2 separate regions of the Homo sapiens genome follow, and region 2 is linked to region 1. A link means that fine-mapping ties the variant in region 1 to the expression of a gene that starts in the linked region. Tissue or cell type: whole blood. Region 1 holds a variant in brackets; the other region holds the start of a gene. All regions are shown on one strand. Distances are from middle to middle.

What was found. PIP is the estimated chance that this variant, and not a neighbour inherited with it, causes the effect.
Region 2: RNASEH2C starts here. The variant in region 1 is fine-mapped to the expression of RNASEH2C in whole blood (INTERVAL, PIP above 0.99).

What each region holds. Positions count from the first base shown.
Region 1 is chr11:65,615,388-65,618,138 of GRCh38, reverse strand. PCNX3 (pecanex 3) reads right to left here and starts at 2,363. Exons shown (of 35, transcript NM_032223.4): 1 at 1,675-2,363; 2 at 1,128-1,315; 3 at 790-889; 4 at 630-669; 5 at 433-528; 6 at 1-199. The coding sequence starts at 1,827. RefSeq lists a silencer at 1,869-2,118 and enhancers at 2,249-2,298, 2,309-2,458, 2,739-2,751. The variant A/G (reference allele first, on the strand shown) is at 1,385.
Region 2 is chr11:65,719,442-65,721,941 of GRCh38, reverse strand. It overlaps RNASEH2C (ribonuclease H2 subunit C), which reads left to right and starts at 1,144. Exons shown (of 4, transcript NM_032193.4): 1 at 1,144-1,355; 2 at 1,525-1,700; 3 at 1,778-1,897; 4 at 2,133-2,500. The coding sequence starts at 1,184. The coding sequence ends at 2,159. KAT5 (lysine acetyltransferase 5) reads right to left here. Exons shown (of 13, transcript NM_182710.3): 13 at 2,338-2,500. RefSeq lists an enhancer at 999-1,068 and a silencer at 1,219-1,458.

The DNA of each region.
Region 1 (2,751 bases):
GGCTGGGTCAGGGTCAGGAAGCTCTTGCTCAGCTCCTGGCTGAGGCTCCCCTTCAGCAGGGGGCTCATGGGAGTGTCAGCCATGCTGCTCCCACTCCAGGGCGCTCCATCTCCAGCCAGGGGAGAAGGCTCTGAAGAGTCTGTACTGGCAAGAGAGGGGTCTGGGACAGCCCCTGGAGGCGTCTGGGGAAGGTCTCCAACTGCCAAAATAAAGGGAAACAGAAAATGAAAAAAGGGTTTTCTGCAAAACAAACTAGTGGTTAAGGGAGGTCTTATGCCCTGTACTTTCCCTGAGAGCCCAGCCACAGCAGCACACTGGGGAGGTCCCACAGAGGAATACAGAGGAGACCCAGGATGGAGCCAAAGTTGAGGGGATTCAACAACGAAACAGCTGGTCTAGCCCACAAGCCTCGGCCCCATAAGGCCCACGCACTCAGTTTCTCCTGCGAGCTGAGCTTCAGCATCTCTCGGTCGGCAGAAGTCACGATCACATTGTTGCTGCCCTGCTCCCGCACCAGCTCCTTGATGTCTGCAACCATGGCCCCAGAGGTGTCAGCAGGACCCCCTGGCACAGCACGCCAGCCCCTGTTCCACAGCACTATGCTCCAACCCTGAAGAGCAGCCACCTACCTCTAAGGGGCCCAGAGTCCTCCATTCGGGGCAGCAGCTCCTGAGTAGACAGAGAGCCATGAAGGAACAAACAAGGCAAGAAGTAGGCTCAGGATGCACCCACAGTAGGGACTGGCTCGCAGAGGGACAGGAGGACAAGCTGAGGTCCAGGCCCACTCACCGAGACCTGGTTGAAGCCAAACACAGAGTGCTGGGAGCTGCAGCGCACCGGGGGTGTGGAACTGACTTTCCGGAACACTGTCATCTCCACTCCGGGGTCCCTGGCGGTGAAAAAGAGCAGCAGCTTTGAGCTAACCTCTCCTCTGTGTATGCTACTTCCTCCCATCTTTGTCACTGCTTCTTTTTCAGAAGTCACTTTACAATTCCAGGGCTAACACAGGACAAGTGTTCACAATCACTCAGAGAGCCAATGTTCCCTAAGCCCCTACTCCACCCTGCAAGGTTCCGGCCCAGGCACCAAAAACCCTCAATCCCCAGCACAGCCCCTACCCCACCCACCTGGGTGGATTGCTGTCCCCCTGGGCAGGCTCTTCCTCCAGCTCCCCCATGGTAGAGCTGCGCTTCTCCACGATCTCGCCCTGGTCAAACATGGCATGAAGCCGATAATTGACAGTCTTGATAGTAGCAAAGATGACAGCCACCACGAGGCAGTACACGCCGGCCACCATCAAGCTGGGAGGCAGGACCTGAAGATGAAAGTAAGCCAGGTCCCTTTTCACAAAGCCTCGCCCCCACAGGATGTACCTGCCATCAAC[A/G]TCATAGCTGGGATTCACAGACTCACAAGAAAATTTCATCACCTCTCCACACAACCAGTACACAGACCTCGACAAAGGGCTCTGTATTCTGCTTAGCTGGATGAGATTAAGTGTAGGGTTCAAGGTCACTCGATCCAAGAAAGGAAGACTTTGGCCCCTCTTCCACACAGACCCAAACTCTGCAGTGATTCCTCTCTCTCCACGTCCCAGAGCCCAGGGCACTGCCCTGAATCCCTGCCAGGCTGCCCTCCCTCTCCCGGCTGGAGTTACAGGTGGCCGTGGCGTCTCACCATGTACAGTAAGAAGGGAAAGATGAGCAGGAAGATCCAGACATAGAGGTGGAAGCAGTTGGAGAAGGTGCTCTGGTGCGGGTCGAAGAACCAACCGCCGGTGAGCGAGGCCCACACCCCCTGGCGCAGGATCTGCAACACCTGCGACCCCATGGCCCCGCCGCTGCTGCCCGCGCCCCCCCTCCCGGGACCCTCATGGGGGCGGCCCCCGGCCCATGCCCCGTCTGGCGCCTGAGGGCCCCGGGGCCCGGCCTCACGCTCACGCCATGGCCTCCCCCAGCGGGGGAGGGGGGCTCGGCCGCGCGAGGGTGCGAGCAGGGGGCGGGGCCGGCCGGGACAGTCAGTGGTGCAAGGCCCGGACGCGGGGGTGGGGCTGCATCAGGGGCGGGGTCCGGGTCCCCACTCCTGGCCCAGAATTGCTCCGAGGGGCCGAGCCGGCAGGCAGGCGCGGGGCACGGGCCGGGTACCCGTCGGCGGCATCCAGAGGTGGTCGTGGGGTGGGTGCTCCCGGGGTGCAGGCGACAGCTCCCTAGTCTCCGGACCAGGGAGAACCCCAGGATCTGGGGTCCACTTTCGGGGTCGCAGGTCACTTGCTTGGGGCTCCGCGCTCGCCCGGCTTCTGCTGGTGCCGGCCTAAGGAGGAGGCCGGAAGAAGGAGCCGCGAACCGCCAGCCTGCAGTGGCGCATGCGCCCAACGATTCCAATTGGGACCCGGAAAAGGAAAACTTGACGGCATGAATGCGCAAGCGCAGAAAGGTGATGGCGCGGTAGGACGCGAGGGGTGCCCTTTGGGCGTGCGCAGACTCCAGGACTAAAGCAAGTTCGAGCGTAAAAGCGTTTGGGCGCATGCGTAGACCCAGGCGTTGCCAACCCAGGGTAGACGACTGGGCGGAACCAAAGAGACAGTTGAGTAGCCATTGGGTAACGGCAAAGTAATTGGCGCACAGCTCTTCCAATGAGTTACAGGAGGCGGGGAAAAGGTGGAGGCGTGGACTCCCCTAGTAGCAGCGAGAGTTCTGCACTACCGAAGCACGCCCCTCTCGGCCCGCCCCCTTTAATGCTGGACCTCGTACGTCA
Region 2 (2,500 bases), 100 kb before region 1:
AAATTAGTCTTTGTCCTGGGTGCAGTGGCTCACGCCTGTAATTCCAGCGTGATTTGGGAGGCCAAGGTGGGCAGATCACTTGAGTCCAGGAGTTCAAGACCAGCCTGGGCAACATGGCAAAACTCCACCTCTACCAAAAATACAAAAATTAGCTGCGTGGTGGCGCAGGCCTGTGGTTCCAGCTACACAGGAAGCTGAGGATGGGGGATGGATTAAGCCTGGGAGGTCGAGGCTGCAGTGAGCCAATCAAACCACTGCACTCCAGCCTAGGCGAGTGAGACCTTGTCTAAAAGACCAAACAACCACAAAAATAAGTCCTTGTCCAGCAAAAATCACCTTTACACAGGTTTGCAAGACAGACCACAGATAAAACATTTTCAATGCATTTAAGAAAAGGGTTGATGTCCCTAATAAACTAAAAATGAATAACCTACCTACTAATCAATATAAAAAGAGTACTTTTCAGAATCGTTTTAGATTTTTACAACGACATGTGCCATTAAAAACAATAAAAGAAAAAAACCCGGCTGGGGGCGGTGTCTCACGCCTGTAATCCAAGTACTTCAGAAGGCCGAGGCTGGAGGATCGCCTGAGGTCAGGAGTTCGAGACCAGCCTGGCCAACATGGCGAAACCCAGTCTCTACTAAAAATACAAAAATTAGGTGGGCATGGTGGTGTGCGCCTGTAATCCCAGCTACTCCGGAGGCTGAGGCAGGAGAATCGCTTGAACCCGGGAGGCGGAGGTTGCAGTGAGCTGAGACCGTGCCTGGCACTCCAGCCTGGGCGACAAAACGAGACTCTGTCAAAAAAAAATAATAATAAATAAGAAAAAGAAAGAAAGAGGGAAGGACGGGAAGGAAGGGAAGGGAAGGGGGGAAGGAAGGGAGGCAGGGAGGAGGGGGAGGGGGGAGGGGGAAGGAGGGGGGAGGGGGAAGGAGAGGGGGAGAGGGGAGGGAGGAAAGAGGGGAGGGGGGAAGGAAGGAAGGAAAAAAACAAAACACAACTGGAAAACCCTAGGACTTGAACCCAGGGAAAGCGTTAGGGGGTAAGGGGACTACACTTCCCGTGAAGCTCCGCGGCGGCTTCCCGTGAGGCCCCGCGGAGGCTTCCTGAGAGGTCCTGCGCGCTTTCCGCGCCAGCTTCAGTGTCAGCTCGCGAGCCCTGGCGTCGCGTAGGAGGGAGGATGGAGAGCGGCGACGAAGCGGCCATCGAGAGGCACCGCGTCCACTTGCGCTCCGCCACATTGCGCGACGCCGTACCCGCCACACTGCATCTGCTGCCCTGCGAGGTTGCGGTGGACGGGCCCGCCCCGGTGGGGCGCTTCTTCACGCCCGCCATCCGCCAGGGCCCCGAGGGTGAGCCCTGCGGCCGGACTACGGCTCCCGGCAGCCCCCGCGCCGGCCTGCGCGCTTCTCATCGCCTGGGCTCCTGGGGATCGTGGTCCGTCCGGAGGTGGCGGGAGGGCAGCTCCGGGCTCGACCCAGCGTGGGTCCTGCCTGAGGCCCTTTGCGCCTCCCGCTCCAGGACTCGAAGTGTCGTTTCGGGGCCGCTGTCTACGGGGAGAGGAGGTGGCGGTGCCGCCTGGCCTCGTGGGATACGTGATGGTGACAGAAGAGAAGAAGGTGTCGATGGGGAAGCCAGACCCCTTGCGGGATTCCGGGACTGACGACCAAGAGGAGGAGCCGCTGGAGCGGGACTTCGTGAGCAAAGGGATAGGGTTGAAAGGGGGTGCGGGCGGGAGCTGTAGTCCCGATGCTGAGCCAGGCCCCTTCCCCAGGACCGCTTCATTGGAGCCACTGCCAACTTCAGCCGCTTCACCCTGTGGGGTCTGGAGACCATCCCTGGCCCGGATGCCAAAGTGCGTGGGGCCTTAACTTGGCCCAGCCTTGCGGCAGCGGTGAGTAGACGAGGAGTTCCGTCTTGCCCCCGGGTGGATGGGCTGGGGAGCACAATTGCGCAGACGGAGCCTGGAGGATTCTACTGGGTAGTGTGTGGGAAGCGTAGCTCCCTGACCACTCTTCCTAGCATGTCTAGAAGCGGTTATTCTGAACAGCTGGGTCCTTCCTCGGGTATGGGGGCCAGCTTGCCGCCCTGTCTTACAAGTCCAACAGTAGAGGCGACTCCTGTTGCAGATTCACGCACAGGTGCCCGAGGACTGAGAACCAGAGCTTGAAATTCAAAGCTGCGATCCCTTCACAGCAGTAAACCAGCTCTTTGGAACCGATTCCATCACCCCAATAAAGGAGCTCTTCACAGCACCTGTGAGTCTGGGCGCCTTAGAGCCCCTAAGCCAGCATGGGCCCTTTCCCCCTCCCCACCAAGAACTTTGCATGGCTCTGGCATATAGAAACAATTTATTGCCGGGGGCAATAGGGGTAAGAGAAGCCAGAAATTTTTGCAGCCAGCACCCACCCCACCCCCAACTTCTACTTTACAAAAGAAATTTTTACAATCACCAGCCCTCTGTACAGAGCTCCCCCATCCGGATCCCTTCTCACTG